Linked DNA regions of Homo sapiens. The protein of the gene in region 2 binds, or shares a complex with, the protein of the main gene of each other region. Each region holds a gene or a part of one and is shown on either strand. Other genes may lie near its edges.

The links.
Region 1: the proteins of ETFA (region 2) and ETFB are in contact, whole or in part, in a crystal structure (PDB 2A1U), measured with the Homo sapiens proteins. Residues at the interface, in NP_000117.1 of Homo sapiens: Glu27, Leu88, Pro89, Glu90, Ser113, Ala114, Phe115, Lys117, Asn118, Pro121, Arg122, Ala124, Ala125, Lys126, Glu128, Val129, Ala130, Pro131, Ile132, Ser133, Arg146, Thr147, Ile148, Tyr149, Ala150, Gly151, Asn152, Ala153, Leu154, Cys155; in NP_001976.1 of Homo sapiens: Ile14, Tyr16, Val18, Ile20, Val22, Val29, Thr31, Phe41, Leu102, Arg106, Lys124, Gln125, Ile127, Asp128, Asp129, Asp130, Cys131, Asn132, Gln133, Gln136, Met137, Ala139, Gly140, Phe141, Asp143, Trp144, Pro145, Gln146, Thr148, Phe149.

Annotation. Positions count from the first base shown.
Region 1 is NC_000019.10:51,354,437-51,366,873, reverse strand, and holds the start of ETFB (electron transfer flavoprotein subunit beta), read left to right. Parts: upstream 1-485; 5' UTR 486-547; coding exon 548-604; intron 605-744; exon of another isoform or gene 745-845; intron 846-12,031; exon of another isoform or gene 12,032-12,235; coding exon of another isoform or gene 12,236-12,437. UniProt on the Homo sapiens protein: Heterodimeric electron transfer flavoprotein that accepts electrons from several mitochondrial dehydrogenases, including acyl-CoA dehydrogenases, glutaryl-CoA and sarcosine dehydrogenase.
Region 2 is NC_000015.10:76,303,472-76,320,194, forward strand, and holds the start of ETFA (electron transfer flavoprotein subunit alpha, mitochondrial), read right to left. Parts: upstream 7,999-16,723; 5' UTR 7,918-7,998; coding exon 7,879-7,917; intron 1-7,878. UniProt on the Homo sapiens protein: Heterodimeric electron transfer flavoprotein that accepts electrons from several mitochondrial dehydrogenases, including acyl-CoA dehydrogenases, glutaryl-CoA and sarcosine dehydrogenase.

The DNA.
Region 1 (12,437 bases), on a different chromosome or scaffold from region 2:
GGGACGACATGGAGGTGAAGTAGAGACACGGACAGGGGAGGATACGGATATGGAAGGGACAGGGAACACGGGGATGGAGAGAGTGGAGAGACCGACGCGCGAGGATTCAGAGGCGTGGGAATACGAGTACCGCGACTTGGAGAGGCCGGGAAGAAGTGGGGGATCTGGAGAGGGAGAGCAGATCCGGGGATACCGGGAAGTGTTTATAGGACCGGGAGGATCTATAAACTCCGGGCGCGCTTCCCTCCAGTGCACGACCTTTCCCCTAGTTCTCTGCCCTGCCCTCTCCGCCAGGCCTTTCCTTCTCTCTCCAGGTCCCGCTCGCTCCCCGAGATCCGCTTCCCATTGGTTTGCATTGCTTGCCACACCTCCCTTCCTTCCGGCCTCTCGATTGGTCCTCTGTCGGGGAGGCGGGCTCTGCAGCGGTTGACTGGCTGACCGTGCTGCGCGCAGGCGCAGAGAGGGGCGCGGGGGGCGGGGGTGGTGGGGCTTCTGGACTGAGCCGCTGAGGGTGCGGGCTGACCCTGTAAGTGGCTGCGGCGGGAAGATGGCGGAGCTGCGCGTGCTCGTAGCTGTCAAGAGGGTCATCGACTACGCCGTGAAGGTGATCGGGCCCCCCTCTCCCACATCCCTGAGTCCCGCAGCCGTGTGCTTCCGGGGCCACGAGCGCACACTGGGTGGGGGTCTTCTCGTAACCCCCGACCTCTGCCGCTTTAACCCCCAAACGTCAAAGTCACCTGAGGGCAAAAATCCAAGAGTGAAGTTCTAACATCCGATCCCTCCGGGGTCACGGCCATGTTCTCTTTTCCCTCGTTCTGGATTCACTCTCTTGATAACTGTTCAGAGTGAGTTGCTTTCTCTATTTCTTACCCACTGGAAGAAGTCACGGTCCCTGTTTAATGCACGGAGAAACTGAGGCACAGAGAGGTCACCCAGCTAGAGAAGGGCAGAGCCGAGAGTTCTATCCAGGTTCCTCTGACTGCTTTCACCCACTAGGCTGCATTACTTACCATTGTACTCTTATATTACCCGAAATGTGCTATAGAGGGAGTCAGACAGGGTCCTGTGGGGCCCCAGAAGCTGCTTTCCACCCTCCATAGCCACAGGGTGAGCCAGGAGGCTCTAGCTAGGGAGAGAGAAGTGTGTTTGCTAGAGATGAAAGTTCAAGGAGCCAACCTGACTGAGCTGGGGGTAGCTCACATTCTCCATGAAAGAGGTGGGGGAGGGTGCTCTCAGCGCCTGGCTTGTTGTCCCCAGAGGGAAGCTGGTGTGGACAGAGGTGAATCAGACACGGTCTCTCAGGCCCGTTTCTCTCAATGCTTGGCCTGAACTGGACTGAAGATGGTGACTGTCTGTCCATGTCTGTCCTTCCCATCAGCCTGGGGACTTACCTCCGTGTCCCCAGCATTACCTAGCGCAGGGCCTGGCACCCTGGAGGCCTCAGGGTGGGCAAAACCAGGGTCACAAAGTTGACACTGATACTGCCCCTGCCTGCTTAGGGAGTGGGCTGGGGAAGAGGGTACAGGAGCCAGACTTGAGCATGAAAGTGTCAGTGATGATAGCAGCCAGCATTTAGCGGGTACTTACGTGGCAGGCATCGTTCCAAGTCCTTTGCAGAGATTAACCCATTCAGTCCTTTCAGTACCCTTTGTATTATTTATTATTTATTTTTATTTTTTGAGACGGAGTTTTGCTCTTTTTGCCCAGGCTGGAGTGCAATGGCGCAGTCTTGGCTCACTGCAACCTCAGCCTCCCGAGTTCAAGCAATTCTCCTACCTCAGCCTCCCAGGTAGCTGGGATTACAGGCATGTGCCACCACACCTGGCTAATTTTTTGTATTTTTAGTAGAGATGGGGTTTCACCATGTTGGTCAGGCTGGTCTCAAACTCCAGACCTCAGGTGATCCACCCGCCTGCCTCGGCCCCCCAAAGTGCTGGGATTACAGGTGTGAGCCACCGTGCCTGGCCGACCCTTTGTATTATTAATTCCATTGGATAGATGAGGAAACTGAGGCCTGTCAGATCTCCCAGCCAGTAAGTGGCAGAGTTACGATCGAAACCCCGGGCAAGTCTGGCTCTAGACTCTGCTCTCCCATCTCCCTCAATGCCCCCTGTCCTAATGATGCCTCTGGCAGCACATGACAGGGATGTCACCTGTAGCCCTTTTGAGACACATTCCTCTTGGGGTCCTGGGACCCAACACTTGGTTTCCTCCCTGCTCTGACTGTTCGTTACTGTCACATCTTTGGAGTCCTACAGCTCCCTGGGCCTCTTCTCTCCATCCCAGCCCTGGCCTTCCACGCCTGGCATGTCTGGGATTGGATCCGTCTCCCCCATGGTGCAGGCCCACGTTTGACTCAGCTCTGGTCCCAGCATCACTCAGCACAGAGCCTGGCACATGGATGTCTCTGGTGTGCTCAGGGAGAGAACAGAGGGGAAGCGTGAAGGCCGCGTTGAATCAGCTACTGTCCTTTCCAGAGGGTGCTGCCTTCCCCTCCCGCAGTGCCCCAGGGCTCCCTGCATTACATCCTGTCTCACTGGATGTGTCTGTTGATGTCCTTTTCAGAACAAATAAATGATTCAGACCCTGCCAGCTTCCTAAACACCAGATTAGACCTGGGTACTGTCCCACCCTCTTTCCCTTCTCCCAAAGCTGTCAGTTCTCCACCCCCCACCCTTCTTGCCCTATTGTCTCTTGGTGTCATTGTCTCACCTGGACCCTCACCCGGGTCCTCCCTCACTCCCAGTCTCTCCCTCTCAGCCCACCTCTACCCAGCCTTAGGGGCCTTTCTGCACCCAGAGCTCACCCTGCTCTCCCCTGCTCCCAGCCTGCCTGTGGCTCCCCAGCACCCTCAGGACAGAGTCGCAGCCCCTCTGCCTGGCATTTGGGATGCTTTGTGGTCCAGCCTCCTCTTCATGGTCTGCTTCAGCCGTCCACTTCCCTCCTTGGACCCTCCCTTACCCTTTGTGCTTCTGCCACTGTGACCTGCTCCTCCTGTCCTGACAGACCAGGCCGCGGCTTGCCCGTTCCATGCCTTCTTCCAGCACCACCCTCCTACCTCTGCTTTCTGTCCTTTGTCCTGCCCAACTCCAACTCATGGATTATATCAAAATCTAGTGATTCTCGGCCAGGCGCGGTGGCTCACACCTCTAATCCCTGCACTTTGTGAGGCTGAGGCGAGTGGATCAGTTGAGGTCAGGAGTTTGAGACCAGCCAGGCCAACATGGTGAAACCCCATCTCTCCTAAAAATAAAAAAATTAGCCAGGCATGGTGGCACGTATCTGTAGTCCCAGCTACTCGGGAGGCTGAGGCAGGAGAATCGCTTGAACCTGGGAGGCAGAGGTTGCAGTGAGCCAGGATTGTGTCCCTGTACTCCAGCCTGGGTGACAGAGCTAGACTCAGTCTCAAAATAATAATAATAATAATTTAGTGATTCTCCCTGGCATCGCCTCCTCCAGGAAGCCCCTGACCCTACACCCTCAGGTTGCCTTGGTATATCCCTGGGGGCTTCTGCAGTCCCTAGATTTGCTTCCATCAGCCCTCGCCAGACTGGATTGGGATCCTCTGTTTACCCCATGTTCCCCACTGCCCTACTCCATCATCCCCAGGCTGGTAGCTCCCTGCAGAGAGGGGCCATGTCTGATCCACCTCTGTTCCCAGAATCACGTGCTCACTCCCTGACCTCTTTCACCTCCTTTTCAAACATCACCTTCTCTGGGAGGACTTCCCTGCTTGCCTCCTTAAAATCACAGGCCCCAGGTCCCTGTGTTTTGCTGTGTTTTCCCCTATACTTAGCAACTAGAAAGGGAGAGGAAAGTATGTTTGCTAGAGATGAAAGTTCAAGGAGCCAACCTAACTGAGTGGAGGGAGTGACTCACATTCTCCATGAAGGAGGTGGGAGCAGGGGCACCCTCTGAGAGCCCAGCTTGTCCCCAGAGGGAAGCTGGTGTGGACACTTTGTAATCCACAGTGTTGTTTACTTATTGATTGCTCTGGTGTCTGTCGCCCCTTCTGGAATTTGAGCTCCAGGTGTGGGGGAGACAGTTTGATGTGGTCACTGCTTCCTGAGACAGTGGGTTCACTACTAGAATAGTGCAGACCTCAGACTCCAAGCCCAGCGCCTGCGTCCACTTCCTGCTGTGTGACCTTGAGGAAATTGCTTCACCACTCTAAGCCTCATTTTTCTACTCTGTACAATGGGGATGATGGTACTATCTACTTTATTGAGTTGTAATGAAAATTAAATAAGCCCTTGGAACAGTGCCTGGCACACAGTGGTTTGTTTTGTTTTATTTTTTGAGACGGAGTCTATCTCTGTTGCCCAGGCTGGAGTGCAGTGGCATGATCTCAGCTCACTGGAACCTCCACTTCCCAGGTTCAAGCAACTCTGCCTCAGCCTCCTGAGTAGCTGGGATTACACGTGTGAGCCACCACGCCTGGCTAATTTTTGTATTTTTAGTAGAAACGAGGTTTTGCTATGTTAGCCAGGCTGGTCTAGACCTCCTGACCTCAGGTAATCCACCCGCCTCAGCCTCCCAACGTGCTGGGATTACAGGTGTGAGCCACTGTGACCAGCTGCAATAAGTGTTTTTATTGGGAGTAGTAGTAATGGATGTTTAGTTAGTCATTTATTCAAAACATAACAAATGCTGTGCTCAGAGTGTATTCGTGTGTGTGTGTGTGTGTGTGTGTGTGTGTGTGTGTGTGTGTATGTGTGTCCGGCTGTGTGTATGTTTCTGGGTATGTGCGTGTATCTAACATTTTAATAGGTATTTGGCAACTCAGTAACACCCTGTCCTGTTCAGGGGCACATTTTACAGGAAGCTGATGAAGCTTAACCTTCAGGGCCTCTTTCAAGACCCCAGGAGAAAGGCTGGGCCTGGTGGCTCACGCCTGTAAACACACACTTTGGGAGGCTGAGGTGGGTGGATCACGAGGTCAGGAGTTCAAGACCATCCTAGCCAACAGAGTGAAACTCTGTCTCTACTAAAAATACAAAAATTAGCTGGGCATGGCGGCGCGTGCCCGTAGTCCCAGCTACTCGGGGGGCTGAGGCAGAAGAATCGCTTGAACCAGGGAGGCGGAGGTTGCAGTGAACCGAGATCGTGCCACTGCACTCCAGCCTGGGTGACAGAGGGAGACTCCGTCTCACAAAAAAAAAAAAAAAAAAAAAAACCCAGGAGAGGCTGGGCAATTTTGTATTCATTATCTGGGATTCATTTTCTTAGAGATGACCCCACAGGATAGAAACTCCAGGCCCAGAAAACGTGTTTCCATCTCGGGGCCCAACCCCGACCAGCCACACCCTCTCGTCTGGGAGCGCCTGGTGTTTCTTCAGGTTTTCCTCTTTGGGCTCCACGCACTTGCCCCTCCTGCTCTCAGCAAGGCCACCTTGTCTGACAGGGCACACGTGGGGCTCACATGTCACCTCAGGGACGAGTTCTCTGTCTGCCCCCCGCCGAGTTAGTGATCTGTCACTGGGGTGGCTCCCTGGCCTTGGCTGTCCTGCTTGCTGAGTGCCCTAGCACGTGCCCAGGGACTCGCTTGACAGAAAAGCCTAGAGGACAGAACCACACAAGTCCTTGAGCTGTGTCAGGGGTTCAGGAAGAGCTGTCGAAAATCACTTTATAAAATCCCTCTTGGGCCGGGCGTGGTGGCTCACACCTGTAATTCCAGCATTTTGGGAGGCCGAGGTGGGCGGATCACCTGAGGTCAGGAGTTCGAGACCAGCCTGGCCAACATGACGAAACCCCATCTCTACTAAAAATAAAAAAATTAGCCAGGCGTGGGCCGGGCGCGGTGGCCCACACGTGTAATCTCAGCACTTTGGGAGGCTGAGGCGGGTGGATCACAAGGTTAGGAGATTGAGACCATCCTGGCTAACACGGTGAGACCTTGTCTCTACTAAAAATACAAAAAATTAGCCAGGCGTGGTGGCAGGCGCCTGTAGTCCCAGCTACTGGGGAGGCTGAGGCAGGAGAATCGCTTGAACCCAGAAGGTGGAGTTTGCAGTGAGCCAAGATCATACTACTGCACCCCAGCCTGGGCAACAGAACAAGACTCTGTATCAAAAAGAAAGAGAAAGAGAGAGAGAGAGAGAGAGAGAAAGAGAGAAAGAAAAGAGAAGAGAAGAAAATCCCTCTTGCCTGCAGTGGACAACAAATAGGAAGACTGGCTCTCCTAACACCGTGGGCACACGTAGCCTCTTTCAGAGTCTCACAGTTCCCAAGACAGATTTGGGGTTAGACCCGTGGTCCTGCCACTTCCATGCTCAGTGGCCCTGGCCAAGGTACTTGGCCTCTCTGTGCCTCAGTTGCCTCATCTGTAAAATGAGAGGTAATGGCAGTAACCAACCTCACAGGCTACTAGGATGGTCAAACGAGTTAATGCATATAAAACCCTTGACTCGTTGTCTGCATGGGTCAGTGCTGCTTTTAAAAAAATTTTTTTTTTCTTTTCTTTTTTTTTTTTTGAGATAGAATCTGGTCTGTCACCCAGGCTGGAGTGCATTGATGTGATCCCTGCTCACTGCAACCTCCACCTCCCGGGTTCAAGTGATTCTCCTCCCTCAGCCTCCCAACTAGCTGGAATTACAGGCATGTGCTAAAACGCTCGACTAATTTTTGTATTTTTAGTAGAGATGGGGTTTTACCATGTTGGCCAGGCTGGTCTCGAACTCCTGACCACAAGTGATCCACCCACCTCAGCCCCACAAAGTGCTGGGATTACAGGTGTGAGCCGCCACGCCCAGCTTTGAGGCTGTTTTTGATATTGGTGGATATGTCGTCTCTTTAAGAGAAAGCCAGCACTTAATGCTGAATGATTTACCTCAATTATAAAACTTTTTTTTTTTCTTTTTGAGACAAGGTCTAGCTCTGTCACCCAGGCTAGAGTGGTACAGTCACAGCTCGCTGCAGCCTCGACCCTCCTGGGTTCAAGCCGTCCTCCCACCTCAGCCTCCTCAGTAGCTGGGACTACAGGTGCACGCCACCATGACCTGCTAATTTTGTTTTTTGGTAGAGATGAAGTCTCTCTATGTTGCCCAGGCTGGTCTTGAAATCCTGGGCTCCAGTGATCCTCCTTCCTCAGTCTCCTAAGGTGCTGGGATTACAGGCATGAGCCATCATTATTTAAAAAACAAACAAGCTATCATTTTTCAGCCCTACCATTGTTTCCTGACTTATGTAATATAACTAAACTGTTTTTGAAGCTTAAAATCAACTCAAGCTTAATTGAGAAGATGAGCTAGTTTGTTTCCTCAGGTGTGTGTGCGTGCGTGTGTGTGTGTGTGTCTGGAAAGTTCTTACCCTTTCTCCTCAGGAGTCAGGAGCCTGGGAATCAGGAGCTTAGGGCTGGGAGTTCTGCCAGAGCAAGAGCAAGATGTGGCTTGAGGCCCTTCAGAAGCCTCCCTGACTCACAGCAAGAAGCTTGGGGCCTCTTACTGATGGGTGGATGAGGTTCTTTTCTGTCTTAAAGGGGCAACTCCTATGTTGTGTTTTTTTTTTTAAGAAAAAAGGCCAGGCACTGCGACTCACACCTGTAATCCCATCACTTTGGTAGGCTGAAGCAGGCGGATCACTTTAGGCCAGGAGTTCCAGACCAGCCTGGGAAACACGGGGAAATCCTTTCTCTACAAAAAGTAAAAAAAAAAAAATTAGCCCGGCATGATGGTGCCCGCCTGTGGTCCCAGCTACTGGGGAGGCTGAAGTGGGAGGATCACCTGAGCCCGGGAGGTGGAGGTTGCAGTAAGGCAAGGTGGCACCTCTGCACTCCAGCCTGGGCAACGAGAGAGATGAAAATAACAGTTCTTTCTCTTTCCTCTCCTCTTCCAGCTCCTTCTCCTCTTTCTCCTTTTTCTTTTTCTTTTTCTTTTTTGAGATGAGGTCTTGCTCTGTCACCCAGGTTACATGTAGTGGCATGATCACGGCTCACTGCACCCTTGACCTCCTGGGCTCAGGTGATCCTCCCGCCTCAGCCTCCTGAGTAGCTGGGACTACAGGTGTGTGCCACCATACCTGGCTGTTTTTTTTTTTTTTTTTTTGTTGTTGTTTGTTTGTTTGTTTTGAGGCGGAGTCTTGCTCTGTCGCCCAGGCTGGAGTGCCGTGGCGCAATCTTGGCTCATTACAACCTCCACCTCCTGGGTTCAAGCAATTCTCCCTGCCCCAGCCTCTGAGTAGCTGCAATTACAGGCGTGCACTACCATGCCCGGCTAATTTTTTATTTTATTTTTATTTTTAGTAGAGATGGGGTTTTGCCATGTTGGCCAGGCTGGTCTTGAACTCTTGACCTCAGGTGATCCGCCCACCTTGGCCTCCCAAAGTGCTGGGATTACAGGCATGAGCCACCACGCCCAGCTGTTTTTGTTTTTGTTGTTGTTGTTTGTAGAACCTGTTGCCCAGGCTAGTATCCAACTCCTGGGCACAAGTGATCCTCCCACCTTGGCCTCCCAAATTTCTGGGATTACAGACAGGAGCCACTGCGCCCGGTCTCAGTCCTCCATCTTTTAATGTTACCCTCTCCATGAGGCACAGCCAGAGTGGGAAGCCCCTTATGGGTCCCACCTTCTCATCTCGGATTCTGTCCTGCCTGTGGGAGGAACAGTTACACCCACAGCCCCAGAGAAAAAGGGGCAGGGAAATAGCAAGAGCATCCCAGTGTCCTCACCAGGCTCAGCTGCCACCCGAGATCTGCTCTGGCCAAGCCCTGGGTGGCGGCCACATGGGAGAAGAGGAAGAGGGCAGGCTCCAGGCCAAATGGGGCAGCTCCCTAGCAAGGCTTCTGTGGATGTCCCTGGAGGCTTTTTAAAAATTTGTGCCCCAAACCAAACTCGCCGTCTTCCCGGCTCTGGCTGATGTACTGACTGGAAGCCCCTTTTTGGTGTCATCTTCCCATCACGAACCATGGCCTGTCAGTTGCACCTCCAGAAACCTCTTGCATCTGTCTCTGCTGTCACAGCTGTCTGAGCCACTGTCACCTCTCACTTTGGTGACAAACAGCCACCCAGCTCTCTCCCCACTTCCTCTCATCCTTTTCCAATTTTCTCCACCAAGAATCCAGAATGACCTTATAAAAACTCAGGTTGGGCCAGGAGCGGTGGCTCACGCCTGTAATCCCCTGCCTTTGAGAGGCCGAGGTGGGTGGATCACCAGAGATCGGGAGTTCGAGACCAGCCTGGCCAACATAGTGAAACCCTGTCTCTATTAAAAATACAAAAAATTAGCTGGGCGTGGTGGTGGGCACCTGTAATCACAGCTACTCAGGAGGCTGAGGCAGGAGAATCGCTTGAACTGGGGAGGCAGAGGTTGCAATGAGCTGAGATCATGCCACTGCTCTCCATCCTGGACAACAGAGCAAGACTCCATCTCAAAAAAAAAAAAAAAAAGAAAGAAAGAAAAAAAGGATTGTGGTGGGCCAAGAAATAAAATAGCCCTCCAAAACAGCCAGGTTTCAATCCCTGGCACCTGAGAAGGGGAAATCACTTAGAAACAGGGTCTTTGCAGGCTGGCCATGTTGGCTTATGCCTGTAATCCCAGCACTTTGGGAGGCCGAGGAGAGCAGATCACCTGAGGTCAGGAGTTCAAGACCAGCCTGGCCAACATGGTGAAACCCTGTCTCTACTAAAAATACAAAAATTAGCCAGGCGTGGTGATGCATGCCTGTAATCCCAGCTACTTGGGAGGCTGAGGCAGGCAAATTGCTTGAACCCGGGAGGCAGAGGTTGCAGTGAGCCGAGATTTCACCACTGTACTCCAGCCTGGGCGACAGAGCGAGAGCCCATCTAAAAAAAAAAAAAAAAGAAATTAGAAACAGGGTCTTTGCAGATGTGATTAAATTAAGCATCTTGAGATGGGGGCATTATCCTGGATTATTTAGGTGGGCCCTGAATGCCATCTCAAGAGTCCTTATAAGAGAGAGACAGAGGGAGACTAGACACGCAGAGAGAGGAGAAGGCCACGTGAAGACAGAGCTGAGGATGCTGGCATTGAAGATAAAGCGATGCAGCCACAAGCCAGGGAGTGTCAGCAGAAGCTGGAGGAGGCAAGAAACGTGTTCCTCCCGGGGCCTGCAGACCCCTTGGTCTCACCCTGGTGACACTGACTTTGGACTTCTGGCCTCCAGAGCTGTAAGATTCTAAGCCACCAAATATATGGTGATTTGTTACGGCAGCCGAGAGAAACTAATAGGAGAGTGGTTAGTGGTTCACGCTACACCCTGGTCTACACCGGAAGCCTCTCTCCCTGGCACATGATGGTGTCCCCAGGATCCAGCTCAGAGCCAGGCACACAGTGGGGCCCAGGAGAGACAAAAATGATGTGCAGAAGCAAATGGGTGGGGTTTGCCACCCACCTCCCTTACCTCCCTTGTCTGTTTAGCAAAGAGGTCTTTCATGCTGGTGTTTTCCAAATTAGGTTGTGACCATGTGTGATCATGACATCCAGGCAGAGGGCTGGCATTTTTCCGAAAAAGGGTAGAAAATGTCAGAGTATGGTGTGTGTGTAGGCAGGGTCAGTATTGGTCACTGACCCTTACACTGCAGTGGCATTTGTGAAATAGGTCAGGGTCACTGGTCACGTTGTCTAAGGTGTTATCCGAGCTCGTTTCACAACCAAGAGAATTAAAGAGCATAGACCACCCAAAAGGTGAGGTTGGAGCGAAAGTTTAATAAGCAAAAGAAGAAAGCTCTCCACAGAGGAGAGGGAAGCCCAAGCGGGTTGCCATTTTTACAGTTGATTCCAAAAGCTTTTTTTTTAAAAAATTATTTATTTATTTATTTTTTATTATTATACTTTAAGTTTTAGGATACATGTGCACAACGTACAGGTTTGTTACATGTGTTTATATGTGCCATGTTGGTGTGCTGCACCCAGTAACTCGTCCTTTAGCATTAGGTATATCTCCTAATGCTATCCCTCCCCCCTCCCCCCACCCCACGACAGTCCCCGGTGTGTGATGTTCCCCTTCCTGTGTCCATGTGTTCTCATTGTTCAATTCCCACCTATGAGTGAGAACATGCGTTGTTTGGTTTTCTGTCCTTGCGATAGTTTGCTGAGAATGATGGTTTCCAGCTTCATCCATGTCCCTACAAAGGACATGAACTCATCATTGTTTATGGCTGCATAGTATTCCATGGTGTATATGTGCCACATTTTCTTAATCCAGTCTATCATTGTTGGACATTTGGGTTGGTTCCAAGTCTTTACTATTGTGAATAGTGCCGCAATAAACATATGTGTGCATGTGTCTTTATAGCAGCATGATTTATAATCCTTTGGGTATATACCCAGTAATAGGATGGCTGGGTCAAATGGTATTTCTAGTTCTAGATCCCTGAGGAATCACCACACCGACTTCCACAATGGTTGAACTAGTTTACAGTCCCACCAACAGTGTAAAAGTGTTCCTTTTTCTCCACATCCTCTCCAGCACCTGTTCTTTCCTGACTTTTTAATGATCGCCGTTCTAACTGGTGTGAGACGGTATCTCATTGTGATTTTGATTTGCATTTCTCTGATGGCCAGTGATGATGAGCATTTTTCATGTGTTTTTTGGCTGCATAAATGTCTTCTTTTGAGAAGTGTCTATTCATATCCTTCGCCCACTTTTTGATGGGGTTGTTTGTTTTTTTCTTGTACATTTGTTTGAGTTCATTGTAGATTCTGGATATTAGCCATTTGTCAGATGAGTAGGCTGCAAAAATTTTCTCCCATTCTGTAGGTTGCCTGTTCACTCTGATGGTTAAACTAAAGAGCTTCTGCACAGCAAAAGACACCAAAAGCTTTTATAAGAAACTCCTTTCATCTCTGTAGCTGTTTGAGTATCTTATCTGTAAAGCTATCTGCATAACTCTCCGTTATCTATGTAGTTGTGGGTACGTCTTTAGGCAAGCACAAAGCTCCGCTTCTCTTGTTTCTGTAACCGTGGGTTTGTTTTAGGTAAGCTCCGCCCCTCCCCGTGCAAGTTCCCACAGAGACCACCATGTACGTGCCTGAAAAGGGGAGGGAACTTTTCCTGGGAGCCTGTCAGTCACGCAAAGAACAAAAGGCTTCTGTGCTGGGCAGCTTGAGTTTTCCCCAGGCTGCTCTATTGTTGCCTGTAGCTGTGATTTTTCAGGCAGGCTGCTCCTCTGAGGACCACCCTTAACTGTCTACCTAACTGGTTTTTCCTTTTCTTCTCCTCATTTGTATTTATGTATCAGTGTATTATGTATTTATATACACTTGGAGATACAGTAAAATGTACCTCTCACTGTGGGTTACCATAAATACTGTAAATTTGAGAAACACTCTTTCAGGCCTGAGAGGAGCAGTGACAACAGTAGGGATGATCAAGTCAGATGTCCCTGGTACCCAGGAATGGCTGGATGAGAGAAGGAGACAGGGTGACCTGCCCCTGCCTACAAACTCTAACCCAGTTCTGTCCCTGGAGCTGTGTGACC
Region 2 (16,723 bases):
TAATTAAACTAAAGAGCTTCTGCACAGCAAAATAAACTATCAACAAAGTAAACAGACAACCTACAGAATGGTAAAAAAAAATCTGCAAACTATGCATCTGACAAACGTCTAATAACCAGAATCTATAAGGAACTTAAATCAACAAGCAAAAAACAACCCTATTAAAAAATGGGCAATGGACATCAACAGACACTTCTCATATGTGGCCAACAAGCATATAAAAAAATGCTCAACATTAACTAATCATTAGAGAAATGCAAATAAAAACCACAATGAGACATCTCACACCAGTCAGAATGGCTATTATTTAAAACTCAAAAAACAACAGATGCTGGCAAGGTTGCAGAGAAAAGGAACGCTTATATACTGCTGGTGAGGATGTAAATTAGTTCAGCCACTGCGGAAAGCAATGTGGCGATTTCTCAAAGAACTTAGAACATTCGACCCAGCAATACCATAATTGGGAATATACCCAAAGGAATATGAACCATTCTACCATAAAGATACATGCATGTGCATGTTCATGGCAGCACTATTCACAGTAGCAAAGACATGGAATCAACCTAGATGCCCATGCAAGGGATGGACTGGGTAAAGAAAATGTGGTATATATACACCATGGAATACTACACAGCCATTAAAAAGAATGAGATCATGTCCTTTAGAGCAACATGGACAGTGCTGGAGGCCATTATCCTAAGTGAATTAATGCAGGAACAGAAAAACCAAACATGGAATGTTCTCTCTTGTAAGTGGCAGCCAAACATCAAATACCTATGGATACAAAGAAGGGAACAATAGATACCTGGGCCTATTTGAGGGTGGAGGGTGGGAGCAGGGTGAGAATCAAAAAATTACCTATTGGATGCTATGTTCATTACCTGGGCGGCAAAATAATCTGTACATCAAACCCCCAGGACACACGGTTTACTCATAATAAATCTGCACAGATACCCTGCAAACCTAAAATTGGCCCAGGAGTTTAAGACCAGCCTGGACAATACAGTAAGACCCTGTTTCTATGAAAGATAAAAATTAAAAAATTAGTCAGATGTGGTGGCGCATTCCCGTAGCCCCAGCTACTTGGAAGGCTGAGATGGAAGGATCATTTAAGCCTAGAAGGTTGAGGCTGCAGCGAGTCAAGATCACACCACTGCACTCCAGCCTGGGTGAGAGTAAGACTCTATTTCAAAAAAAAAAAAAAAAAATTGGGGGAAAAAATACAGCAATGATAAATGATTTTAGACAAAACTAAAAAATGAAGTGATGTTTTTATCTAAAGAAAATCCTCGGCCAGGAGCGGTGGCTCACACCTGTAATCCCAGCACTTTGGGAGGCCGAGGCGGGCAGATCACAAGGTCAGGAGAGCGAGACCATCCTGGCTAACATGGTGAAACCCCGTCTCTACTAAAAATACAAAAATTAGCCGGGCGTGGTGGCGGGCACCTGTAGTCCCAGCTACTTGGGAGGCTGAGGCAGATGAATGGCGTGAACCCAGGCAGCAGAGGCTGCAGTGAGTCGAGATGGCGCCACTGCACTCCAGCCTGGGCAACAGTGAGACTCTGTCTCAAAAAAAAAAAAGAAAGAAAGAAAGAAAGAAAATCCTCCGCTCTATTACTTTATCACTCAGTAACAATAGTTTAAGGCACCTCAGTGTGCAAACATAATTTCACAGATATCCTTTCAGTGTTTTCCAGTCCTCTAACAAGATTAAACCTCTCCCAAACACCCTCTATGTTCTGTAACAATGACCACACTTAAAATAATGTGTTTCTTCCTTAATCTGTTTGCATCACAAGGGCAGGGACTAGGTCTGTCTTGTTCTCCACTGTGAACTTGGTATCTACCTCTCTGGCACACAGTTGGCACTCAATGAATAGTAACTAAATGAAAACTTTTCTTAAAATTATCAAAAACTAAAAAGCAACTGTTTCCTCATTGATAATGTAATCAACTAAACATGTATAAGGGTAACTAAACAGTACATAAACTGTTACATCACTAAAACAGACACACCATCATGCTTTTAGAGAAGTTCTCTATACTCTGTTTAGACTTGGTTGCAAATAGCAAAATATGAAGTTTTCTTTCTCATGCCAGCCACATACCCATATAAAGTTGACTGGCCTTTATAAGATAGTATACTTCTTGTGGGCAGGATTTAAAGAGGTTATCACCCTCTCTGCACCCTTTCAAAGCTAAATTTCTTGAAAATAATTTCCACAGACACCAACTCTTATTACCTCACCTTCCATTTTTTCAGTTACTCATGCAAACTGGCTTTCACCTTCACAACACTGAATCCAATCTTTCCAAAGTCACCAAAAACTTCATTATGGCTAAGTCCAATGAACACATTTTGGTCCTTCTCTTTTTCAACCTCAATAGTTGTTTTTTTTTTTTTCTTGTGGGGGTGGGTATTTGTTTGAGACTGGGTCTTGCTTGCTATGTTGCTCAGGCTGGTCTCCTGGACTCAAGTGATCCTCCTGCCTCAGCCACATGAGTAGCTGTGACTACAGGCACATGACACTGTGCCCAGCATCAGCCTCATTTTTGACATTGTTTTTGCTTGTCAGTTTTTTAGAGTTCTTGCTGTGACTTGAACTGTATATTCACATAGTAAAGTACCACAGATGGTAGAAGAAGAAAAAAAGCTGGAATCTAACTCTCTACCCTTACAAACCCACTCATAACCTAAAGTAGTAAGAATGATTGTAACCTATACCTCCACCCCAACCATCTTTGGAAACTAGGTGTAATGAGGGTATAGAGGGCAGGGGAGGGTTTTTTTGCTTCTTTTTTTTTTTTTTTTTGAGACAGAGTCTCGCTCAGTCGCCCAGACTGCAGTGCAGTGGCGCGATCTCAGCTCACTCCAACCTCCGCCTCCTGGGTTCAAGCAATTCTCCTGCCTCAGCCTCCTAAGTAGCTGGGATTACAGGCACGCACCACCACACCCAGCTAATTTTTGTATTTTTAGTAGAGACGGGTTTCACCATGTTGGTCAGGCTAATCTCAAACTCCTGACCTCGTGATCCACCCACCTCAGCCTCCCAAAGTGCTGGGATTACAGACATGAGCCACTGCACCCAGCCGGTTTTTTTGCTTCTTAATTAAAAAAAGAAAAACAGCAAGAATAAGCTATAAAATCTTTCTGAGTCATACCCAAAAGGATAATATATAAAGTCACCTATCCCTATTTTAACATACATTTTGTAATTTTTAAAATGTATATTTCTGTACTTTAAATACTTCCTTTAATCCTTTTAGTAATAAAATATAGCAGCTTTTAATCATGACCAGAAATGTTATATGACATTGACTGTAATACTAAAAACACAGTCAATTTACTTCACTTTAAGAAAGGACAAGACTCTTAGTAGACACATTGGCAGGCATCATAATTTTACTGAATTCACCTTATGCAATAAATTTTCTTTTAGAATCACACCAAAATTGGCTCTCTTTCTTCTTTCAATAGAAATTAAAATTTGCATGCAAATTACAGAGTTCAATCTTATTCATCAATACTAGACAGAAAAGTGTCATGTTCCTTCACACCAGTTTCATAGCTTCTCAGTCCTGATAGATATTCCTTCCCACCTGACAATAAACACAGTAAAAAGAGTACTCAAATGACCTTGAAATTGTTGTTTCACTCACCACATAAATATTTTTCTGCATCTTCTTATTCTTCAATAAATCAATTTCAAGAGCAAATTAATAAATAACAATAATTAGGATTAATATCCCTGCAAGAATATTAACTAACTGCAAATGCCTACCTATTTGCCTCTTGGTGTGTTCTCTAGCTCTTTATTATAGATATAAAAACTATCTTTGTTAACAGATGACTTTAAAGACCATTGCCACACACATAAGGATGAAAGACTTTACTCAATGGCACAAATCAGTCAGAACTAAAAATGGAACTTAGATACCAAATGCAAGTCATTGAACTTATATCCTAATAGTTTAACAAAGTGGTTTAAAAGAATACATAAAATTTACCATCTTAACCTTTTTTTTTTTTTTTGAAACAGCGTCTCACTCTGTTGCCCAGGCCGGAGGGCAGTGGTGCTACCTGGGCTCAATGCAGCCTCAAATGCCCAGGTTCAAGCAAGTCTCGTGCCTCAGCCTCCCAAGTAGCTGGGACTACAGGTGTGAACCATGGCGCCTGGCTAATTTTTTTTTTGGTAGAGATGGGGTTTCGCCATGTTGCGCAGGCTGGTCTCGAACTCCTGAGCTCAGGTGATCCATCTGCCTCAGCCTCCCAAAGTGCTGGGATTACAGGTGTCAGCCACCATGGTTGGCCCCATCTTAACCATTTTTAAGTGTTAAGTGTTAACTATATGCACATCGTTAACAGTTTATGGTAATCTTTTAACTGTAATTCCTAACTTTATTTTTTTAAATATGGTTTTGGAAATGTATCCTCTTCCTAAATGCATTAATGGTTAGCTACAGAACATTTTTTTTTTAATTTCAAGAGTGGGGACTTGAGATAAGCTATTTTGACTTTGTGATATCACAAACATATATATGTAAACAAACAGGAGTCAGATTGAATGGGCCCCACTTTACAAACATGAGACAACTTCAGCATAAGGTAGAAATGTATTATCCTAAATAAGGATCCATGTATCCATAAATCCATAAATATGCAAGAAGATAATGTTCTTCCTTATAGTAGAATAACTAAAAAATGTACGAAGGTATCATGGAAATAGAAAATCACCATTTTGCATCATAGTAATCATTTCTCAGGCAAAAATCATCAACAGATGCTAAGACTGGGTAAAAGTCTGATGAGAAATAGGACAGTCACATAGTCTCAATGAATCGCCTCACAAATTAGTTAAAAATTACAAAAGGAGGAGTATTAACTTGACAGTGGAGAAACCTGGCAAACAACACTTTGGCTAAGTAACTAAAGTCAGCATTACCACTAATGGGATAAACCAACATTAAGTACCTGCTAATATGATGCACGGGGAACACAATACCACTTTTGTGATATTCCCACCAAGAATACATGACCTGAATCTAATCATGAGGAAACACCAGACAAACCCAAATTGAGTGACAGTCTGGAAAATAGAAGGCCTGTACTCTTCAAATACACCAATGTCATCAAACCCAAAGGAAGGCTGAGGAACCTTTCTAACAGAGTAAAGAGACATGAAAACCACTTGCAGGACATCTAGAGTATCTTAGACCAGAATAAGGAAAATTGCTATAAACTGTACTAATGGGACAACTGGCAAAATTGAACATCCATAGATTAGAAAACAGTATTTTATGGTGAAACTTCCAGATATTGCCAATTACAGTGTAGTTAGAAAGTGAACCTCTTTGTTCTTTTAAAATATCACTCAATTATTTAGGAGTAAAGGGCACATTTGCAACATACTTTCAAATGGTTCAGAAAGATAGTATTATGTATATATGTGGAAAGATAAAGCAAATGTGTCAAACTGCTAACATGCTGGGAAAACCAGGGGAAGGGTTTTGAGATTTCTTTGTACTATTCTTGCAACTTTTCTATAAGTGCAACTATTTCAAAATTTAAAAAGTTAAATACAGGTATATGTCCCTATTAATATATGGGTCCACTTTAGAAGTGTTGCCACCATTTCTTTTATGCTAGAAATCCAAATCTCTCCAACATTCTTAATGACTTTAAAACAGCTATTCTAGGCTGGGCGCGGTGGCTCACGCCTGTAATCCCAGCACTTTGGGAGGCCAAGGCGGGCGGATCATGAGGTCAGGAGATCGAGACCATACCGGCTAACACAGTGAAACCCCCGTCTCTACTAAAAATACAAAAAAATTAGCGGGGCGTGGTGGCGGGTACCTGTAGTCCCAGCTACTCAGGAGGCTGAGGCAGGAGAATGGCGTGAACCCGGGAGGCGGAGCTTGCAGTGAGCTGAGATCGCGCCACTGCACTCCAGCCTGGGCGACAGAGCGAGACTCCGTCTCAAAACAAACAAACAAACAAACAAAAAAAACAGCTATTCTACTTAGCTTGACTTCAAATTTTAAAAATAAGTCAAGGTCAAAGTCTTTGGCAAACCACAATGAATATCTGGAAGTAATGTCTATACACATTAGCCAACGATGTGGATAGTAAAAATTACTTAATCATTCCATTTTTTTCTGTTAGCTCTACAAAATTACTGAGTCCTAAATTCCATCCCCCACCACAATTATAATTTCACTTAGGCCAGACTTGTAATCTGTCCACAAAACTGTTTTCCAACTGCTGCATAGAGCAGCATTCTTCTGGCTCAGGTTCCTGGAATTTCCCCAAATTCATGATTTTCACTTGTTTATGTCTAGATCCCCAACCGGGAGAAAACATGTCCTGAGGGGAAGACAGGACACTAACCTGAAAGACATGGGTTTGAACTCTTTAGGGGAGGGGAGGGTCAGAACTTTTTATTAAACAAGGAATACGCACAAGAAAAAAGATGTCTAAGGCCAGGTGCGGTAGCTCAGGCCTGTAATTCCAGGACTTTGGGAGGCCGAGGCAGGTGGATCACTTGAGGACAAGAGTTCGAGACCAGCCTGGGTAACATGGGGAAACCCCGTCTCTACAAAAAAAAAAAAAAAAAAAAAAAAAAAATTAGCCAGGCGTGATGATGCGCACCTGTGATCCCAGCTTCTCGGGAAGCTGAGGTGGGAGAATCGCTTGAACCTGGGAGGCGACGGTTGCAGTGAGCCCATATCGTGCCACTGCACTCCACTCCAGCATGGGAAACAGAGCCAGACCTTGTCTCTTAAACAAACAAACAAACAAACAAACAAAAGTCTAATGTCTACAGACATCTAGAAAGAGCTCCAGCTATGCCTCAGAGAGAAAAATCCCAGGAGTGGATGGGAAAATATCCATGCCCAGAAAAAAAAAAAAAAAAAAAAAAAGGAGAAAAGGTACAAACCATCAGGTAAGTTTCTGACCCAAGTTTACCAATCTTGTTTCTCATTTCACCTAAATGTAAACTAGGAAAACTACACAATCCACAATATAAATTATTGTTACTTGACTTGTGACTGGTCAGTCTCCAAATACTCCTTTCCCACAGCATGAGAAGGAAAATATGTTTCCTATCAGTCCTTCTCACAACAGAAGAGAGAAATGTGGTTTGTCACTAATGAAACACTGAAAATGTACCACTGTCACCAGTTAACCTAATCTACAATCTGCTGGTTAAAAGCAGGTCAGCCTGAAGCATATAAAAAGACGTCTGCCTTTCAAAACTGGCTAAAGCTGTCAAATCGGATCGCAGGTTTTACAAATACAATCACCTAAATTCAGCCCTGCTCCATAAACCAGAAAGCAGAACCAGCTTCCATAACTGGCCACGCAGCCTCCCACCCCACCCCACCCCCGCCCTTGACAGTGAGTGGGTCGGAGTAGCCACGATGCGCCCAAAGTGTTTAATTCTTCCAGAAATGCCGGCCTCCGGGAGGAATCTAGGTTTGAAACTTTCCCCAACAGGGCATTCCCCGGTGACATTTTGCTCCCTCGGGTGTGGAGCAAGTGTGGAGGACCTGGCGGCCCGAAAGTGCCCAGAGTGACCGACAAAGGTGGGAAACGGCAGGGCAGAGAGTGGGCCAGAAGAAGGGGCAGCAGACGCGCAAATTCACATCATTCGGGGTCACCCTGACCCCAAACCTCTGACTTCTGCCCCGAACTGGCGTTCCGCAGGGAGTCCAGGGTAGGCCCCAGAACTTTGGACCCAAGTCCCAGGCGGGGACCGGCCTGCGGGCGCGAGGGCTGGTCGAATCTGAGGGGGCCAGTGATCTTTGCAAGACCCCATAGGGACGGCGGGTTGACGGGGGGCCGTCCCTGGGTTCGCCTTCCCAGTCCGGACTCACCGCCCGCCGGAGCTGCCCCGGAGCCGCCGCTCGGAACATGGTCTCCGCTTCCGCCGCAACCTCGGCCTTACAGCAGCCCCGTGCCCGGCCAACTGGCGCCGCCTCAGCCAGTCACCTAATGCTCGCGAGACGCGCGAACGAGATAAGACGCCCTAGGCCGGGAGCACGAGCCCGCGGTTTCCGCCTGCCCATTGGGCGGCTGCGCAGCCAATAGACGGCGGGAAGTTAGGGGCTAGACTGGGAAGTGGGGCAAAGGTGAGGCTATTCCCCGGGGACCTTCGAGTAAGCCCGGGCCGCGGAGCGGCAGAGACAAAGCTGGCCACCCGCTGATGACCGAGCTCAGACTGTACTGTCTCACAGCCCCGCAATGGTCAGCACTGCTAGAGTGAACTTCAAAACTGAGCTGACCTCGGGGTAAGGTACGAGTGGAGCCTTGCCAATTCCAATTAGATACCTTTCCTATATGCCCCTATTTCCCCCTGTATTTCCCCATGGTAGCAATTGTCACATGGGTTGTAATAACCTAAGTACTTGTCTGTGTCACCCATCTGACTGAAGATCTGTAAGGGCAGAAAGTATGCCCTTTTTTTTTTTTTTTTTTTTGAGAGAGAGAGAGTCTCCCTCTGTCACCCTGGCTGGAGTGCAGTGGCGCGAGCTCAGCTCACTGAAAGCTCCGCCTCCCGGGTTCACTCCATTCTTCTGCCTCAGCCTCCCGAGTAGCTGGGACTACAGGCGCCCGCCACCACGCCCAGCTAATTTTTTTGTATTTTTAGTAGAGACGGGGTTTCACAGTGTTAGGCAGGATGGTCTCGATCTCCTGACCTCGTGATCCGCCCGCCTCGGACTCCCAAAGTGCTGGGATTACAGGCGTGAGCCACCGCGCCCGGCCAGTATGCCCTACTTTTAAATTTTGTGTCTACCTGCAACACCTAGCACAATGCCTGGTCCATACTAGGCATTCAATCAGTATGTGTTGAATGAATAAGCAAATGAATAAATGACTGCTAATGAGTCTGGACTTTAACACGAAATTTTTAAGAGGGAAGTGGTATGTTCAGAAATTGTCTCAATTCCCAATTCAGCAACAACCTACCTTTCCAATGTTATCTAGTCTATCAACAAATCCCGTTGACTCTACCTTCAAAAGATAACCAGAATCCAGCAATATCCTCCAACACCCCTTTGCTCCTCTGCTGGTATCACCTTCACTCAGGACCCTGTCCTCTCTCGCCTGGATCATTGCAAAGCCTCCTAACTGGTCTTTCTGTTTCTGCCCATGTTTCCAGAAGCCTCTTCTCCAAACTGATGGACTGATCATGACCTCTGCTCAAAGCCCTATGGTGGCTCCCTCTCCTCCCACTGCCCTCTTCTCTCACTGTTCCCCAGATACATAGGCCTTCTTGAGCACACAAGCCTGCTCCTCTCAGAGTTTTGCACTCTGGCTCTTCCCTCTGCCTGAAATGGCCTTCTCTTGTTACCCGCGTGGCGTACTTCCTCACTTCATTCAGGTCTCTGCTCAAAAAACACATTTGCAGAAAGGCCGGCCTTAGCCTCTCCACCTAAAATAGCACCCATGCCACTCCCAGACGCCCTATCACCTTGTTTGATTTTTTTTCTTGGCATTTATCACTGCCTAACAGGATGCACATGTTTGTTTATTGCTGATCTCACTGCATTGGAGTGTAAATTCCCTGAAGCAAGAGCTTTGTCTGAACTAACAAGCACTCTAAGGGCCTTGCGCTTTTGCTCTTCCCTCTGTCTGAAATTCCCTTCCCCATCTGACAGCCCTCTTTAAAACCCAGATCAAGTGACAATTCTTTTGTTCTGTTTAAGACAAGGTCTCACTCTGTTTCCCAGGCTGGAGTGCGGTGGTGCCATCACAGCTCACTGCAGTCTCGAACTCCTGGGATCAAGCAATCTTCCTGCCTCAGCCTCCCAAGTAGCTGGGACTACAGTCATGTGCCACCATGCCCAGCTATTTTTTTTTGTAGGGGCAGGGTTACCCAGGGCTGGTCTCGAACTCCTGGCCTCAAGTGATCTTCCCACCTTGGCCTCTCAAAGTACTGGGATTACAGACATGAGCCACCACGCCTGGCCCAAGTGACATTTCTTTTGTAAGCTCTTTCTCAATTCTGCAGGATGAATTAATCCTTTCCTCTTCTTCACTCTTGTAGCTCTATGAACAAGGAGGTGAGGACCCATCTTAAACTTAAGTTGCACCCACTTCGAACACGTCTGAACTCATGTTGCCGACAGAGCTGTGGACCCCTGTCCCCCAGTCAATCTGCCTGTGGGAGGGGCAATTTAGTATTCCATGTCTCACTGCATTTACCTCCTAACCAGTCCCACACTGGACTAGAATCTGAGACCTATGGGAGTGGAAGGAAGAGGGAAGGGTACTTTTAGTAAAAACAGAAAAGGATATTTTACTAAAAACCATATAAAAAACTGGGATACAAACTAACCTCCTTCCCTACCTCCCCACCCATGACAAAGCGAAATACAAGGGGAGAGCGGCTGCCCCGCCCTGCCCCCACTGGGCAGATTCAACAGCTCCCAGGCTTGGGCAAATCAGCAGCAGCTGTTCACCCCAGAGTCTCGTTGCCCCTGGGGGTTCCTGGTGGAGCAGTTCAGAGCAGAGGGAGAGGCTAAAAATGGGCAAAGTCTGTGACACCTGACCAGACCTGTTCTGATCACACATGAAACGCCCCCTGAGGCTTTGGGATGTATCAGGGTTCTACAATCACAACCAGGTTATGTACCACAGAAATGTGTGTGCTAAGACATTTCTATTAGAAGATTTTCCCTAGAGGCATATGACTTTCCCACTCCATTAGGAGCCGCTTTGGTGGCAGGACCTATGGTTTCCTTTTATTTACTTATTTTTATTTTATTTATTTTGGAGACGGAGTCTCACTCTGTCACCCAGGCTGGAGTGCAGTGGCGCGATCTCGGCTCACTGCAACCTCCACCTCCCCTCAGTTTCAATGGATTCTCTTGCCTTAGGCTCCCAAGTAGCTGGAATTACAGGTGCCCACCACCATGCCCAGCTAATTTTTGTATTTTTAGTAGAGATGGGGTTTCACCATGTTGGTCAGGCTGGTCTCAAAGCCCTGACCTCAGGTGATCTGCCTGCCGTGGCCTCCCAAAGTGCTGGGATTACAGGCGTGAGCCACCGTGTCCAGCCTATTTATTTGCTTCTTATTTTTAGATGTTCAGCAAACATTTGTAGAAATATGTGTCCAATGGGCTAGGTGCAATGGCTCACACCTGTAATCCTAGCAATTTGGGAGGCCGAGGCGGGCGGATCACTTGAGGTCAGGAGTTCAAGACCAGCCTGGTCAACATGGCGAGACCCTCCCCCCACCTTCACTACTAAAAATACAAAAATTAGCCGGGTGTGGTAGCATGTTCTTATAATACCACCTACCCCTGCAGCTAAGGCATGAGAATCACTTGAACCTGGGAGGCAGAGGTTGCAGTGAGCCAAGATTACACCACTGTACTCCAGCCCGGATGACAGAGCAAGACTCCATCTCAAACAAAAAAAAAAAAAAAAAAAAGAAAGAAAGTAAATATTTGTCCAAAGAAGAAAGGGCAGAAAAGAGAGGGTGGAGGAAGGAGGATTCAAGGACTACCACAGTCAACCCTTGAAGATGACTCCAGCATATTTGGAGCAACACCTCTTTCTTCTCCACAGGCCAATTTCAGGAGCAGCTCCTCCAGGATTCCTGCTGGAAACTTAGAAGAGAAAGGTCCCTGGGACCAACTACAGCCCTAGCTGCTGCAACTTTCTGGGGGTCACAATGGTACTTATCGTCTCCTTCCTCAGTATCCATTCTAAATCTCCCCCTCCCTCAGCTAGCACCTCCCCTGGTTTGAGTGGCTAATGCCTCCATCCTGCCTCGTGGACTGAAGATCTCAACCCCTGACCAGCATGCCCTTCCCAAGCCTGTTTATTGTCATAATTGGGCAATGGAGGACTCAGAGGCACCCAAGTAGGTTACTCTTAGCCAAGATGACTCCCCTTCTGGTCTTCTGGTCCCTGCATACAAGGTGCCCAGGTGGCAGCTGTAGCTTATAGCTCAGAGGACCCTTGCTGTGTCCTCTGGTGAAAGATTCCCCTTTGGGGACAAAGACCTCTAACCCTGCAGGTCCCAGCACTATATAAAGGTCTTTGGTTCAAGGAGTATCCTAGAAGATGAACCCCACCCTTATCAAGTGCTGTCTCCAAGCTGCTGCTTCCAGTGGGCCTTCAGCAGCCATTCCGATATCCTGTCAGGCTGGCAGTGTCTGGATGATCCAGCCTGTGAATCGCTTAGGGAATCCTCTGATCACGGACTCATTTCTGCACCTCCATTGCAGTAAATTGGGTCCCTGGCCTGATGGATGTTATGTGGGATCCTGTGACAGTGAATCAGATACTCGATAAGCCCTCAAATAGTGGTGCTGACTAAGGTCCTGAGAACAGGAAAGGTAAACAGTACCCAGAATATATGCGTTTTCTTGACATGGTGAATCTCGACTTTTTCCAGATGAAAGGGGTTCCATGTGGTTAGGATGAATCTTGCCTTTTCCAAGATAGAAGGGGTTCCATGTTGTCAACTTGCACCGTGGAGCCAGCTGGTCTTCTGGAGGAATGGTGCCATATTGGGGGCTCATTCAGCAGTGGCAGTAGCTCAATCAGGCTTCGTAAGTGGGAGCCCATGCTATTAGGCTCCTGCTGCCTCTGTCTCTGCCACTGTAGTCATTTCATGCATGTGCCCTTAGTACCAGCACTAGGTGGCTGATGACAGAGGCCGACTAAGGTCAACTGGCCCAGATATTTTTGTCCTCTTAGTTACATGGTGGCTTTTCAATGGTGGATGGTTTCTGGTGGGTGTTAACATGTAATACAAACATCTTCATACTTGGTGCCCACTCCAGACACCTATCCTCATGCCCCTACCCCAGACCTCCCTGTCCCCCATCTTCCATTCCAACCTTTCTTCTTCCGGGGCCCTGGCTAGCCAGGTAGGCCATTCCTCACTGCCACTGAGTACATAGATATTCTGTGCTTGAGATGCCTCTCTGTGCAGGAAGAGTGGATGGCCAAGTGCACCTCCTGAAGCTCTGCCCATGGAGATTTTTCTTCACCATTGTCTTTCAAGGCTGTCCCTAAGTGGGGCTATAGTGCAACTGCCATCTATTTTCAGCTTGAACTCACATACTGAGCAGACCCTCCATTGACCAAGTATAGGATTTTTCCTCCTCTTGTCAGCTGGTCATAAAGGATCCTACCTACAACCAGAAGGGTGCACCAGGGGAGGTGTGTTGAGGTAGTAGTGGTGTTCATGGGGGTCTAGGCTGCCAGCTCGTGGAACTTGCTTGTACCTTCTGGTCTTACTTATTTTAAGTCCCAGATGTACCAGTTCCATCCTAGGATGCATTGTTACTGACTGCCTGGTATTGTGACTCGGTGGGTTTGGCAGAACCCAGCTCATGATGGGTAATTCCTGGCATATGGTCACTTGGTGTCTATGATCAGGTCAGTAGCACACCAGGAGTTTTTCTCAAAAGGCACATAAGTCTCCACTGCAGATGGCATGGCCTTGCTCCAATACTGCAGGGGCCTGTGTTGTCATTCTCCCAGTAGAGCTCGTCATCAACTCCACACAGCATCTTTTCCTACCACTAACACTAACACCGTCTATGGAAGCACAAATGACCAAGTAGCAGACTGCCTGGACCTGCTGTATAACCTTTTTATGCTCTGAGCTCCAGTTAATGCTGGGAGCCTTTTATGTCACCTGCACTGATGGCATGGGTTGGAGCAGTATTTCCAGATGTGGAATATACTGTGTCCAGAACCCAAAGAGGCCTATCAGGCCTTAACACTTCTTTCTACATGGTGGGAGGTGCAAGATGCAATAATTTATCTTTTTCTTTGGATGAGATATCCTGGAATGCCCTAACTCTGGACCCCTAAACATCTTATGTGGGAGACCCCTGAATCTTTGCAGGATTTATCTCCTACCCTCTAGAATGTGGTCGCTTGGTGTCTATGATCAGGCCAGTAGCACACCAGAATTTTTTCCCAAAAGGCACGTAAGTCTCCGCTGCAGATGGCATGGCCTTGCTCCAGTACTGCAGGGGCCTGTGTTGTCATTCTCCAAGGCCTCTAATGTGCTATCCACTTTTTTCCACCCAGCTGAATCAATGTAATGTCATTGATGTAAAAGATCAATGCGATGTTCTACAGTATGTCCAGATGGTCCAGACCTCTTCAGGCTGTATTGTGATTGATAGATGCTGAAAGTTAACATAGCCCTGGGGCAAAACTGTGATTGTAGACTGTTGTTTGTTCCATGTGAATGCATACTGTTTCTGATCCACTTTTCTCCTAGGGCTAGAAGAGAACCAATTCACCAAATCAATGTCCACATAAAATGTACCTGGGGCTGTGTTAATCTGCTCTAGCAAAGATACCAAAACTGGTGTGGTGGCGGCAATAGGGCTACTACTTCTGTGGGTTTGTGATAGTCTACTGTCATCTTCCAGGTTCCGTCTGGTTCCTGGAGGGACAATACTAGTGAGATAAAGAGGAATAATGATCCTTGAAGGTTAGAACCTTGAAGTTTGCCTCATTGTGTGCTGTCAAGGAGGTCCTCTAGCTTTTATACATGGTTCTCAATTGCCTGTTAATCATTCCTACTCCTTTGTAATTTTTTATCAAGGGCATGGAGCTTAGCAATTGCCACCCAATGTCATTGTCTTTACTATTTCCCCCATATTCCCTTCCACAAGCATCCCATCCCAATTTGCCACTAGTGCAAGTCTTAAGAATTGGATATCACCTTATGCCAAAGGCTTGTTCCAGCTACCAGCAGGGTTTGGGTCCTCAGTGCCAGTCTGGTAAAAAGTAATGCAGCTCCAAACCCCCATCTTACCACCTGTTTTCTCAACCACTCCCACACTCCTGCTTTCTCTTGGATGCAAGATCGAGACAAGTTCAGAATACATCATGATAGATAGGGGGTGCCCTTAGGAGCCACACCTGTGTGAGGGATGAGACAGCGGAACTGGGCAGAAGCAGTAGCTGGGCTGATATGCAGGCCTGAACAATAATCCAGTGGAATGTGAATTATTCTGTTTTTAATTGTGTTTTTTAATGCAATAACAGTATAGCTATGCTAAAAGAATATGATATTTGTTGACAGACTAAGCACTCACCACAGTATTTCCAGCTCACAGGAAAACAACCATCCAAAAAACTTAGAAAATTTAAAATGGAATATATGTTCTTTTTGTTTTTTTGAGACAGAGTCTCGCTCTGTCACCCAGGCTGGAGTGCAGTAGCATGATCTCGGCTCACTGCAACCACTGCCTCCCAGGTTCAAGCAATTCTCATGCCTCAGCCCCCTGAGTAGCTGGGATTGCAGGTGCATGCCAACATACCCAGCTAATTTTTTGTATTTTTACTAGAGACGGGGTTTCACCCTGTGACCTCAAGTGATCCACCCACCTCGGCCTCCCAAAGTGCTAGTATTACAGGTGTGAGTGACTGCCACCAGCCAAAATGCAACATATATTCTTATGTGATGTATTTAGACTATCAGGCTGGGCATGGTGGCTCATGCCTGTAATCCCAACACTTAGGGAGGCCGAGGTGGATGGATCACTTGAGGTCACATGGCAAAATCCCATCTCTACTAAAAATACAAAAATTAGCCAGACGTGGTGGCGCTTGCCTGTAATCTCAGCCACTCGGGAGCCTGAGGCAGATGAATCACTTGAACCCGGGAGGCAGAGGTTGCAGTGAACCGAGATCACGCCACTGCACTCCAGCCTAAGAGACAGAGCGAGACTATGGCTCAAAAAATTAAAATAATATTAGGCCAGGTGTGATGGTTCATGCCTATAATCCCAGCACTTTGGGAGGCTGAGGTGGGAGGATCACTTGAAGCCGGGAGTTAGAGACCTGTCTGGCCAACATGGCGAAACCCCATCTCTACAAAAAATTAGCCAGGCATGGTAGTATGCACCTGTGGTCCTAGCTACTCGGGAAGGTGAGGTGGGAGGAGGAGCCCAGGAGTTCAGGGTTACAGTGAGCTAGGACTGTGCCACTGCACTCCAGCTTGGGTAACAGAGTGAGACCCTGCCAAAAGAGAAAAAAAAGCATGCTAGTGCCTTGAGGGCCTTTGCACTTGCTGTTCTTTCTGTTTAGAAAGCTTTTGCTCCAGATCTTCTACATGGTTTGCTGCTGCTCTTCATTCAGGTCTTAGCTTCAATACTACTATACCCCCTGGGATGGGCTTTTCCTGACCACCTTCCATATTTCTTCCATTCCCTTACTATGTTTAATTTTTCAGAGCAAGGACTTTGTTCTATTCACTGTTGTATCCCTGGCACCTAGAACAATGTCTGGTACCTGCAGGTACTCAATGCATACTTCATGAATGAACAAATGAATGAGTGGATGACCGGATGAGCAGATGCACTTATGAAACCTCAGATTGGCCTGCACTTCTCTCTCCCCGTTCCTCACCCCTCTGGCATTTGCTGCTTTTGTTTGATTGTTTTAAATAATCTTTACTGAGATATAATTCACAAGCCATAGAAGCTACCCATTTAATTTATATAAATCAATGATTTTTGGTATATTCACAGAGTTGTATGACCATCATCACAATGTTTGAGAATGTTTTCATCACCTCAGAAAGAAACCTCTGCCTCTTTAGCCATCACACCCCTATCACCCCATCTCCCAGCAAAGTATTGTCGAGGATGTAGAGAAATTGGTACCCTCATACATTACTGCAGAACCCACATAAATGGTGTGGCTGGTTTGGTAAACAGTCTGGCA